Linked DNA regions of Homo sapiens: all the other regions are reported to be linked to region 1. Evidence: microRNA targets listed by miRTarBase, many of them from high-throughput screens and not tested one by one. Region 1 holds a microRNA gene; each other region holds the end of a gene's coding sequence. Distances are from middle to middle.
What was found. The annotated mature microRNA hsa-miR-561-3p reads CAAAGUUUAAGAUCCUUGAAGU and lies in region 1 at 1,737-1,758, shown strand. An mRNA with a match to its seed (bases 2 to 7 or 8) in the 3' UTR can be bound and repressed. Matches are read on the target gene's strand: a 7mer-m8 pairs with bases 2 to 8, a 7mer-A1 pairs with bases 2 to 7 and ends in A, and an 8mer does both.

Region 1 (3,184 bases):
AGTGGCTGTTTGAGGATATATTAGGGTAATTTTAATATAAAATGTCAAATTTTACCTTTCATTTTAAATTAGAAATCCTTAAAATTCTTATTTCCATTGATGAATGGTAGGTGATTTTAATTTAAATTTTACTTAGCAGAGTGATGTATTTGTGATTCAATTCGCGATATTGCAATTTGTTTTCTAAAACCTCTAAAGAATAAAAAAAGTTATTTTATTTCAGTATAATAATGAATTCAAAGATAGTTACAGAAGCTAACTGCATAACTGCCATGAGCCCTGGTCCCTAAACGTATTAGAGGCTGGTGGATCTAATATTGTTTGCCTTAATGCATTTAGAGATCAGGAAACTTAAGCTTTTTCCCATAAGAGCATAAAATATACTCAGATTGGAAGAGGAAAAAATGGTATAACTTTGAATGGAGAAATCGCTTCACTTTCAAATACTGGGGATATGAAATTGAAATCAGGCCTTTATTTTTAAAGAGAATGGCTAAAAGTCATTGTTCCAGAGTAAGACTTAGAAAACAATGCTTATACTGTTTTCAGGCCCTTGTTATTTGCGAGTTTTTTGTTTGTTTTATGCCTAAGAAATGTTTTCAGCCACTCTAATGATGCTTACCATGCATGATTGTCATCAGAGGACAGTTAATTGACTCAAATATTGTGTGGGATAGTAAGTGTCAATTTTCTGTTTACATTGAAATGGTATAGTTATGGCGAATTTGAAATTAGTTTTGTCTTTCAGTGTAGTATACTTAAAAATAGTTTTGAAAAGGCTGCCCTAATTTGCACACATAATATGAATAAGTAAGTTAACTTATATAGAAATTAAGATTTTCAGTATATTTTGTGCTAAATTGCAAAGATTAATATGGCTTTTTAAAGGAAGTTTTGAATAGCCTTGTATGTATTTTCTAGGATGCAACTAAGAGAGTGCATCTAGATATCAATACCTGCCTTTATTTCATGTTTGTTTTTTGCTATTAACATTATATAAATGTACCTATACATCAGCTGTATCATATACCTCCTGATGAAGAAGTTCAGAATAGACCTTAGAAACTTCCATATTTTGGGGGACTACTTTCTCTCTGTCTCTCTGTCTCTGTCGTTCTCTCTCTCTTTGTCTGTCTCTCTCTCTGTCTCCATTTCTTTCTCCCTTTCTGTGTGTGCATACTTATGATACATATATATTCTTTGATGTTTCTCTATTTGTGCTATAGTTTTTCTGTAGGGAAAAATAGCTTCAGTTAATTGATATTTTTGAGCCCAATTTTAACAACTAATTAAAAATGTTTCCCAGATAAGTATTGCTAGAAATCCTAGAAATCCTTTTTTTTTTCTTTTTTCCAAATTCTAAAAGTGTTTTTAGACTTCTATTTATACCTCCGAAAGAAGAGAAAAATAGTTGGCAAGATCTTCTACCTACATTCTTTGTTGTAGGCTCTAATGATGGCATACTCATGGAAGCCCTTTCTACTCTTCTTAAGTAGAACACAAGCACATGTACAGTTAACTACTGTAAGAAGGTAAATTCACTACTTAGAAGTTAGATACTACTGATAAGTTTATCAGGTATTGTGAAGTGAGAATTTTATACAAATGTAGTGTTTTCCTGGTATGGTACAGCTTTTTCTTAATATTAGGTGTTACAGTTGATCCATTTCTTGAAACTTCATCCACCAGTCCTCCAGGAACATCAAGGATCTTAAACTTTGCCAGAGCTACAAAGGCAAAGTTTAAGATCCTTGAAGTTCCTGGGGGAACCATGGATGGCTATCCTTATTTCTATAAGAGAGGAGACTGAATACTGTGGGCTCAGTCTTCAGTCTACCCTCTTATAGAAATAAAGACAATCATTTCAGAGCATACATAATCTACTGACTGAATCATTAATGATTTGCCTGTTTATAGCTGTATAATATTTCATGAGGTGATAACTATTGTTCTCATTTGGTTTGTATTTAAATTAGATAATATCAATTTTAAATATAATTTTAGCCAAAAAAAATCAAACAGAACATTTGTAGTATGGTAGCAAACGTGCAAATTTGGGATAAAAAATTGAAATAAGAGAATAAATGTGATTTTAGCTTCTCAATTTTTTTCATAGCCATTTATAACCATCAAGAGATACCATGTTTTAAGTAAAATTTTAATAGCAAATAGGTTCATTTACCCAGATTTCAACCTAGGTGAATTAAAACATAGGGTTATAAGTACTAATGAGAGTTTTAAGAAACAGTATTTTGTAAAGTATCTTTGAAGGTCAAACTACATGTTATGCTCTGTAATTTATTTTATTTTTGTCTGCTTTGAGGAACTGTGTAGTAATAAAGGACTTTGGTTGATGATCAAACTCTCCTTTTACTTCCTTGATGATGTGTGTTATTATAGTCATAAAGATGTCCAATAACATAAACACTGAACTTTACTAGTAGTGCAAATAAATACAGAGAAAGTTTGGCTGATTAGAAAGAACAATTGCATAACTGAATTAATTTCAAAGCAATTTATCTCTATGCTGAATATGTTAATTAAATATAATTAGAGGGTGTTTATGGATTGTAGTATCTCAGAATATAGTTTGAGAGAATTTTTAAGGAGTCACATTTGAGTAAACAAATTTTATTTGAAATTACGTAAATGCAATATGAAATGGCAAAAGTCTATTGGTATTTTAGATTTATAAAATAGCATTGTTTTAGAGTAACAATGGCTATTGCTTTAAATTTTTATGAATTATTTTTTCTGTTTTAATGCATCACCATGACTGGATATGTAGGAGAAAAACCTTTAAGCTTCTTAGCAGTAAATCAGTAAGAGGTCTCATATTGCTAATGTCTTTAGTCATTTTAAAGGAAGAACTACTAAATTTGTAAAATCTGAGTTATCATAGGTTTAGCTGATTACATTAAGCAGACTAGGAAATTCATGATCAATTTGGAAAAATAAAATTTTCTAGAGTAGTACAGATGAGGTTTTAGAGAACAACATTTTAGACTTGATGTTGTTGGAAGTAAATGCTCGGTGCTGCCAAGTGAATATAGCACTCAGGCAAAAGTTTGCTCAGCAAGGCAATTTACTTCTATAAAAGGGTGCCTCTCACGGATGGAGCAATGGCAAGAGCACACCAGACAAGGGAGGAGAAGGGGATCTTACTATTAATGCAGCTAGTCCC
Region 2 (3,184 bases), not on the chromosome of region 1:
CATAGGAATGCAGATATCCCTTCCACAAACTGATTTCGAGTCTTTTGCATTAATACACTGAAGTGGGATTTCTAGATCATATAATTCTATTTTTAGTTTTTTTTCGGGGGGGGGTGGAATTTCCATACCATTTTCCATAATGGCTACACCAATTTACATTTCCACCAACAGTGTACAAGTGTTTCCTTTGCTCTACATCCTTACCAACACTTATCTTTTGTGTCTTCATTTGAAAACATTGTTTTGAAATAAAGTACAGGATGATTAAAAACATAATAATAAACATTTTAAGACGTTGTGACAGGTGAGAGATTATATCTTATTGTGGTTTTAATTTGCATTTCTCTAATGATTACAAGAAGAAAGAAAGAAAGAGAGAGAGAGAAAGAAAGAAAAGAAAGAAAGAAAACATAGGGGAAACATATAAGACATTGGTGTGGGTAGTGATATTTTGGATTTGATCCCGAAAGCATGGACAACAAAATTAAATATAGACAAATGGTATCACATCAAACTAAAAAGCTTCTTAGTTCATGACGTGTAGCTAAAACAAACAAACTAAAAAGCTTCTGCACAGCAAAGGAAATAATCACCAGAGTAAAGAGACAGCCTATGGAATGGGAGAAAACATTTGCAAGCCAGACATCTGACAAGGGTTTAATATCCAATACATATAAGGAACTCAAACAACTCAATAGCAACAAAACAAACAAACAAAAAAGCAATTAAGACCTGCTTTCTGCTGACAAAGTCTTCTTCCTTACCCCTCCCTAATAAGAAGGAAGAAAAAAGGCAATTAAAAAAATGGGTAACTCCTCCTTAGTACAGTGGTAAAACTTAAACATTAAAAAAGTTTTGGGGCCAGCTCGGTGGCTCACACCTGTAATCCTAGCACTTCTGAAGGCCAAGGTGGGCAGATCACCTGAGCCCAGGAGTTAGAGACCAGCCTGGGCAACATGGCAAAACAGTCTCTACAAAAAAAAAAAAAAAAAATTAGCTGGGCTTCATCCATGTTTGTGTCACTGCACCTGAGCATAGGTGACAGAGTGAGACCCTGTCTCAAAAAAAAAAAAAAAAAAAAAGCTTTAAGTTGTAAAAATGGGTAAGATCAAAAGAGAAGGAAATAAAAAAATGTGTAAGGAAGCTGAACAGACATTTCTAGTGATGTTTTTAAAGCTATGAACCCATTTTGGCACAAAGGCTTTATCATATGCAGTCATTTACAAAATTTTTTTGTAAAGCCATCATATAAAAGTGTGAATTTTCTCACCTGAGTACATGACAAGAAAATGCTGAAATCAATATATAAATCAAATCATCTGTACTGGCACTGTTAATCTAGAAGAAGGTGGTTGCATAGAGAATAGCAAGAATTTAAACCAGCTTATTGAAGTGTGAAAAGAAAAAAAGAGAGAGCTTCAGAGGTAGGCTTTGCCTCTTAAAAAAATTAAAAATAGCCGGGCGCGGTGACTCACGCCTGTAATCCCAGCACTTTGGGAGGCCGAGGCGGGCGGATCATGAGGTCAGGAGATCGAGACCATCCTGGTTAACACAGTGAAACCCCGTCTCTACTAAAAATACAAAAAAATCAGCCGGGCGTGGTGGCGGGCACCTGTACTCCCAGCTACTCGGGAGGCTGAGGCAGGAGAATGGCATGAACCCAGGAGGCGGAGCTTGCACTGAGCCGAGATTGCGCCACAGCACTCCAGCCTGGGCGACAGAGCGAGACTCCGTCTCAAAAAAAAAAAAAAAAAAAAAAATTAAAAATATAAGTCACTGTCAGTGTTGTGCTTGGGAGTTAGCAGCCAAAAACAAACAAACAAACAAAAAAAGAAGTCATCGTCTGTGAAAAGAAAAGAAAAAAAGAAAAAAGAAAAAGACTTTGCATCCATTGAAGTATGCAGCAAAAGAAAACAATTTTTAAAATAAAATAAAATGGGTATAGTTGGGAGCTTAGCAATGGTCATACAGAATGGAGTAATGGACACTGGAGGCTCTGAAAGGTGGGAGGATGCCAGGGGGATGAGGGATGAAATCCTACCTATTGGGTACAGTGTTCACTATTCTGGTGATGAGGATGCATATTTCACCACTATGCAATATATCAAAGCAACAAAACTGCACTTGTACTCCTAAATCCATAAAAATAAAAAATTATCTTGGCTGAGACATCTTTAAAAAATAATAAAATAAAAAAATAAAAATTTTAATAGAGAGAGAACAGTAAGAGCAGAGCAAGGACCTTAGTCTATACTTTCAAATGGGCTTGATCATTTGAAACAATAAAGTTGTTCATTGAATCTTCACAAAGTATTATAAAAAAGTTGTTCATTGGCAGAATTTCCCAACAAGTTAGTATAGATTACATACTCTTTGATAAAAGCAACAATAAAGTTAATTTTTTTTCCTCTTTAGTATTTGCTTTAAGAGAAAAATCCTAAATTTCTTCAGAGGAGGAAAAAAAGAGAGGGAGGGAGAAATCATTAAAACTTGTAGAGATTTCCGATGCCAGTAAACCATGAAATATGAAAGTATATTTAGCAATCATGGTGATTTAGCTCATGGTAATTGGCATATGTATAATTATAATTTGCATTCCAGTTATTTAAACTGAGATATTCTTGATCAGGTTGAACACACTGTGAATAGAAGATCTCTTTCCCCAGGAAATAGGATGGAGAGAGTCTTTGGAGAATGGCCTCACTGAACTGGTAAGTCAGCTTCCTCCGGATTTTGGTAATTTCCCCACTTCTTCCGTAATTTCTGAGTGCCCTGGCCATTTTCTGGTAAGTCATGGTCTTCCTGTTGCCTTTTCTTTTCCCCCAAAGCTCGGCAAGTTTTTCTTTGTTTTTTGATACAAACTGAAAGATGCCTTTGGTTTTATCTACCCACTGAATACAAGATGCCATCTCCGGATTATACAGGGATTCGTGAAGGTATTCAAACAGTCGGAGCTTCTTCCTGCCTAAAATGAAGGGAAACAAGGTCAAACTCCACCGTGGCTGTAAACCGAGAACATCCTCAGAAAGGGTTTGTTGAGCAACTACTGAATTAAAAGCTGCATCGAGACTGGTTTTTCTCCCACTCACTGCCCTTACGAATGCATGATGGCATCATTTTATGGGATTCGAAGGTAGAGGATCTATTTGGCCTATTGAAGTTTCAACTGGATCTTTCTTTGTTG
Region 3 (3,184 bases), 46 Mb from region 1:
AGAATTACAGCAGTAGAAAGGAAAACAGAAACCAGGGCACACAGTTCCAACACCAGAACAGAGAATTTGGGAAGATAATTGCTCTGAAACAGAACTGGCCTCCCTGTGTCTATTAGAAAACATTTCCAAAGCTCACGGAGGGAGGCCAACTTCCCCTATGGGAAACCCATTCACTCGCCAAAGGGCAGAAGGCATCATAAATCACCCATTGATACATTGGTGGGGGGCTCCCTGTCCCCCTGGTGACCACTCCAAGGTGATTTGATCTGTGCTTCCTCTGTTGGGTCAGAGACGAAACGGGCTATTATTAGGTCAAACATTACAGAAATCAACTGAGACTCTTAACTAGTAGTTGATACACCACAGGGCTTTACTTTACTGCACAATTACTAACAGTTGATTGCACCCTTAAGTATTGATTATGCAAAAAACAAAATCATCTCGCATCAGTTTTAAAGCATGACAGGGTTTGAACAGTGATCTTGAACCTAAGTATTGTTATCATGAGAAGGTTACAGTATTTGGCATCTGCAATGTCACAAAATAAATATATTATTCTCTCAATAGTGTGGAACTACCAAAATGTCAAAGTGCTTAAGAAATTGTCGCATGTGAAGAAAATAAAGAAAGATGGATTTTTTTTTTAATAATTCTATACAGAATCTTCAGATGATGGGACCAGCCCATTTAGAAATCAGTGGATATGCTGTCGATATGTAAACTGAAATCTTGCAGGCTTTTCAACACTGCTTAGCTAGACTTTCTCTACTGAGTTTCTACAAAAAGACCAGCATTGGAGGGGTACCAAATACACCGACAAAAGAGAAAAAGCAGATGGGCTGCTAGGTTTCTGCTTTTAAAAAATTTCATATAAGAATTGGGTTTCAAGCAGGAAGCCAGAACTTCTGCCTCTGGTTCTTAAATTAACATTCGGTGTGTAATGGACAATAGGCAGGGACTCATAATTTGACTAACTCACATGCTCAAGCATGATCGTGTCCAATTTCTACAGGCCTCCTTTGTAAAGAAATGTGTAACAATGGGGGGAAAGTCATAATTCTACCTGAAAACATGGATTGTAAGAGGAAATAAAAAAATCAAACAGTATGTTTTAAGTTTCCCTTTTGATACTGTGTTTCAGGGTAAGTGACAGCTTCTGCAAACCAAGACTCAGTCCTGATTATAAAGGATTTTTAAAATTACATTATTAAAAATATGTATTTATTCTTCTTTCACTTTATCTATTTTCCAAAGCCTCTTTCAAGTAAACTGTGAAGTGCCTGAGTACCAGTGACCATGACGTCACACTTTCTTTTATCTCAAGCACTCATTGTTGTTTGCATTTGCCCAAAGTGCTGGCTGGCTCCGAAGGCCAGTTCCCACAAGAATGAATTCGGAAAGACTTCATCCTTGTGTTTTTCCTTCTCTTTTAATTCCATGCAACGAGGTCAGCTTTTGCAACAAGGTGGGGTTTTATTTTTTTGGTGCATGACATCAAATACTCTAACGAGACATTTTTAATGAAAGACTTAAACCAGATAGGCCACAATGAACCAAATTAGAAATCTGAACATGTCACCACTTGCAGCATAAAGGAATATAAAAGGGCAGAGCAAAGTCTTTTTTCCTAAGGTGAATATTTCTAAGGTAAGTATTCATTTGTAAAAGTTTTTTTTTTTCATCATGTCTGAAAACCCATTATCACGCGGTTAGTATTACAAGAGACATCCCTTGGTTAAAAAAAAAAATACCATCTTGCAATTCAGCACACACCTGCAGCTGGTGTGCTCATCCAAACCAATCAGTAGGCTAAGAGAATTTAAAATTCCATACATATGAGTCTAGGTATTAATGCCGATTACACAGTACACAGTACAGAGGGAGGTCCCTATATCCACACACACACACACCCCATCCAGCATTTACACCAAAAGCCTTACCCTTTAAACACCTTTAACTATCCTGCAAACAGTAAATGCATCATTGGCCACCACCTCCAATAGTTCGTCTTTTTTTTTTTTTATTTTTTTTATTTTTATTGGTCTCTTTGTGTGATAATGACCTACACATGGACAGGGTCCAAACCATCTGGAAGATGTCTGATTCCAGGCTGAAAAGCAGTTCTCAACAAAACTGGTCTTCTGCAGCCACCACAAAGCACCAGGAAAAGGGCACCTCCGCGGCCATCCCCAGCCAGGCCAGCACAGCGCTCCGTGCCCGCTGAACCGTCCCAGGCAGTCCTCTGATGACCCAAACCACCACCACCTTTGGGCCCAGAGCAGGACAAATGAAATTTCAACAGGGGCCTGCCCTGTGACCGAAAATTACTCAGCTTCACAGCCCCTGAATGCAAGGAGAGGTGGTCCCCCCAGAACCAACATGCCCCCCAAGGTGGGTACGCCCACGGTTCTGGGAAATGCATACCTCAGGTAATTCACAGGTGCGATCCCCCAGTGGAGGCGGGGCAGCCTGAACTTCTGGCCCTGCAGGAGTGGGAAGAAATCGCTTTTGTCTTTCCGACAACTGAGCCTTCCACCTGGGGCTGGGAGGGCGGACAGCAGGACCGGCTCTTCCACTCCCCACCGCGGCCCCCCGACCTGGTCAGTAGCTCTGGCGTTCAGACAAAAGGTCCCCTGAGCTGGGGGTGGGGGGCAGGTCGAGAGTAGGCCGGTAAATCAGACTTCGCAGCTCCTTAAGTCACCAGTCCTGCATTTGGGTGCAGAGATTCCGTTTTAAAAATTCGAAGCATCGCTTTGGTTCGCTCTTTGTTCGCGGGCGCGGGTTCTCGCTCATCCATCCATCCATCCATCCAACCATCCATCCATCCATTCATTCTTTCTTGACGCACTCGCTCGCTCCCCGGTCGCTCCGGGCGCATTACCGCTTCTTCTTCTGCTTGAGGGACTTCCTGCGTTTCAGGATCATCTCATAGAGCTTGTCCATGCCCTCGGTGAGGCCCTCGCCGATGATGGCGCACGCCGGCTGGACGTGATAGGTGGTGGCCGGGATAAGCTCGTGCAGCGCCAGCTGCTTCTCAATCTCTGCCACCGGCAGCGACTTGGGCAGGTCCTGCTTGTTGGCGATGACCAGCAGCGGCGTGCCCTGGTTCTCGGCGAACTTGGTCACCTTGTGCAGCTCCGTCTTGGCCTCCTCCAGCCGGTCCACGTCCACCGAGTCCACCACG
Region 4 (3,184 bases), not on the chromosome of region 1:
CAATTACCGTATCAGAAAAATTTCTACTTATGATTTACCGGCTAAATTAAAACAGAAAAGCTTATGTGGGACCTTGCTCTATGGGCATTACACTGACAGAATTAGATAGATGGCATTCCTGTAAGACTGTGCCTCCAAATTGGGATCTCAATCAGTTAATATTTACAACTATTTGGAGCAGGAGACTAAATCTCCAAAGCTGAATTGGAAGTTACTTAAGATCCTAAACAATCAGCTGGGGGAAGGGTTGACAGTAGGGATAGTTTGGATTTTGAGGGGAGGGGATGATGGGAAAGCAGAGGGCAGACACCACAATAATTCTGCATTTTTGAACAATGGACCATGAGTTGAGTATCTTCTCCTGTCGTTACACTGGAAAGCTTATTATTTAAGGCTCTAGATACATACTGCCAAATTACTTTCTAAAAGTACACAGGAAAGCCTGTCTTTCTTTCTATGTTAAGTCCTGCTACTTAGGACACTTATTACAATTCGCCAAAAACATTAATTTGCATTTCTTAGGTTACTAGAGGTTGAACCTTTAGAAACTGCCATTTATCTCTTCTGTGAACTACCCATATTTTCTCTCCTTTTCTACTGTTTTTCTTAATATAAAAGTAGTAATAACTGCTGTTACCATTTTAAACCTTATTATTCATTTCCTTGGAGACTATTACTTTGTTTATGAAGTGTTTTTCCAGCCCCAGAATCAAAATGGAATCTATTTTCACAAAAATCCCATTTCTAAGACTAGTTTTTCTCCACCTGTATTAAATATCACATGTCACAGTTAGCACTGGAGGGGCACAGCCAGCAAACCTTTTCGGTTAACAGTCCAACAGTGAAGTTTCACATTCCATTAAGTATCTCACCTGTAGCAGCTCTACTTGGAATCTTACTACACATCCTTAGGGTTGCTTACTCAAGCCTATGTACTTAGTTCCTTGATTTATAATGTTATTCATTAACATTTTGTTCAATGTCTTGCAGCACAACTAGAATAGAAAATATTTGGCAATCTCATGTACATCCCAATTTTATGCCTTGTTTGTTTGTGGCTAATCTGATTAAATTTTTACTTCAAATAAGTCTTTTAACACGGAGAACTAACTACTGGTTCTCATTAACTCTGATTAGCTAGCTGGCTACAGATGCAGTGCATGTTAATTTCTACAGGCACCTTTCTGAATTCAAGTAAAAGTTTTGGTAGACAAGGATTTCCTACTTAAGTATCACTAACATAATATGAATATTGAGTACAAATATTGCTCACTATTTTTGCATTCTTTAAATTGTTTTACTTTGAAAATTTAAGAACTATCAGTAAGTCATTATTAACAGGTCTTTAAGGAGTATTTTGAACTGTGAAAATACAAATCTAGTCAAATTTTGAACACATATAGAGCCAAATATTTCAACAAAACTGCAGTTTAATTTCAGAAAATGTTAAAATATATATTTATACATCAATTTCTGACATACACTTAATGTGTTAGTATACACAAAATGATGCTTTCTTTTGAAACTGTATTTATGAAATGTACATTTTAATTTAAATACTCAGTATACACTGCACTTAATCTGCATGTTGCATTTATTAAATACATTAAAATCTGCAATGTAACAAAACGTTTTCTGCATACGAAATTCAAAACACCATTTTAAATGAACAAAAGATGGCTCACTTTTTTTTTTTTTTTTTTTTACAACTAGTGTATTGTACACTAGCTCAGCTCCACCAAACTACCTGTTCGTTCTCTTTTATTTGACATTGTTCACAGACTAGTACATATTACAATAAGAGTGCTGGATAAAAACATGAGGTACGAAAGTGGTTCAAAGATTATAGGTCATGCAGATCATGCTAGACAGTAAAGAAAATTGTGACTGAGAAAACACTAAATAAAAATACATAAAGAATGTGCATTATAAAAAAAAAAAAAGACAAAAAAAAAAAAACAACAAAAAAAAACCAAACTCCATTACACAGCTTTGCTTCTTTGGTTACAAAGTAGGTTGAACAATTTCACAGCTTTTTATTCCCACCCGAAAAAAAAGTCATACGAAATGTTGAAAAGCAGAGGAATCGTGGCAATTTCTCTTAGAAAGTAGAAACAAATGAACAAAGTTTTCTTCATCAAAATAGCCCAATTATTTATCATATCACAATAACTGGTGACTACCTGTACAGTTGCACTATGTTCTTCATACTTACACTATACAAAATTTACATTCAAGCTGGGTCTTTACTACTGAAAATAAATACCATAAGTAAATTGCCATTAGTGTTAGAAATATGCCAGGATTCTTTTGTTCAATTATTGCCTAAACGTTTTATCTATTAAATGCAATCCTGTCTTTCACTTCCTTTACTGATACTTATAATTATTCAAAAAAATTAAAAAAGTTCTGTGACATTGTTCATGTACATTATGAAAATAGCAGCCCTGTAATAAATAAAACACAAATAAATGAAAACTTATGTAGGCAAATGTTACTGAATCAGAAAGAAAAGTGGCTCTTTAGATGAACTGTTATTTATAATGTGATAGGAAGGCTCAGGGTAAATCCATGGGTAATAGGAAACATGGGAGAGCCACCAAAACTCTTAAAGACCCCACTCATGCGCACCAGGTAAAATGCAGACTTTGCTCGCTTTAATAAACCCCATCTATTATTCTCCTTGTGTACTGATGACATAGAACTGGACATCAACAGCGCTGCATGACATCTCAGAGAGAGGAAAAGCTCTTGTAGAATGATTGTCTAATACTGAAAAGGCCAAACACACAACCAAAGCATGGCTACTTGCTTTCGTATAAAGTGGAAAGAACACCAGTGGCACACAAGGATAGATTGCTTTCAGTTTTTTTCTTAATGAGGCTTAAGAAAGCTTTATGCTGAGGAGACATTCGGCTGCTGTGGAGGTTGCGTTGGCTGCGGAGGCTGTGCTATCACTGCTTGCTGTTGAGAAGTGCTACCAGGATTGGCCTGTTGGGTTGGGAGTTGGGATAATTGATCATTGCTTGAAAGAGATTTTAACAGTGCATTTTCTCGTTCAAGTAAAGAGTTTCTTTCAACTAATTCTTTTATTTGTTCCTTTAAAACTTCCACTTCTTCTCTTACTGCATACATCAAATGGCTTTTCACCAGATCCTGTGAAAAACAAAATTAGGAATGTCAA

Region 2: the mRNA of SPIC is a reported target of hsa-miR-561-3p. Seed matches in the 3' UTR shown: 7mer-A1 at 2,390-2,396.
Region 3: the mRNA of ARL4C is a reported target of hsa-miR-561-3p. Seed matches in the 3' UTR shown: 7mer-m8 at 1,665-1,671.
Region 4: the mRNA of TSC22D2 is a reported target of hsa-miR-561-3p. Seed matches in the 3' UTR shown: 7mer-m8 at 2,125-2,131 and 7mer-m8 at 1,198-1,204.

The regions. Positions count from the first base shown.
Region 1 is chr2:188,295,816-188,298,999 of GRCh38, forward strand. It overlaps MIR561 (microRNA 561), which reads left to right and starts at 1,677; the gene lies at 1,677-1,773. All of the region lies in intron 1 of GULP1 (GULP PTB domain containing engulfment adaptor 1), which reads left to right. RefSeq lists enhancers at 2,797-3,184, 3,127-3,184.
Region 2 is chr12:101,486,125-101,489,308 of GRCh38, reverse strand. It overlaps SPIC (Spi-C transcription factor), which reads right to left. Exons shown (of 6, transcript NM_152323.3): 6 at 2,312-2,965. The coding sequence ends at 2,538. Among named protein-coding and RNA genes, the nearest start is that of SPIC, 12 kb to the right of the region's middle.
Region 3 is chr2:234,493,131-234,496,314 of GRCh38, forward strand. ARL4C (ARF like GTPase 4C) reads right to left here. Exons shown (of 2, transcript NM_001282431.2): 1 at 2,882-3,184; 2 at 1-2,706. The coding sequence ends at 2,676. Among named protein-coding and RNA genes, the nearest start is that of ARL4C, 2.4 kb to the right of the region's middle.
Region 4 is chr3:150,458,348-150,461,531 of GRCh38, reverse strand. It overlaps TSC22D2 (TSC22 domain family member 2), which reads right to left. Exons shown (of 3, transcript NM_001303264.2): 3 at 1-3,156. The coding sequence ends at 2,896. Among named protein-coding and RNA genes, the nearest start is that of TSC22D2, 52 kb to the right of the region's middle.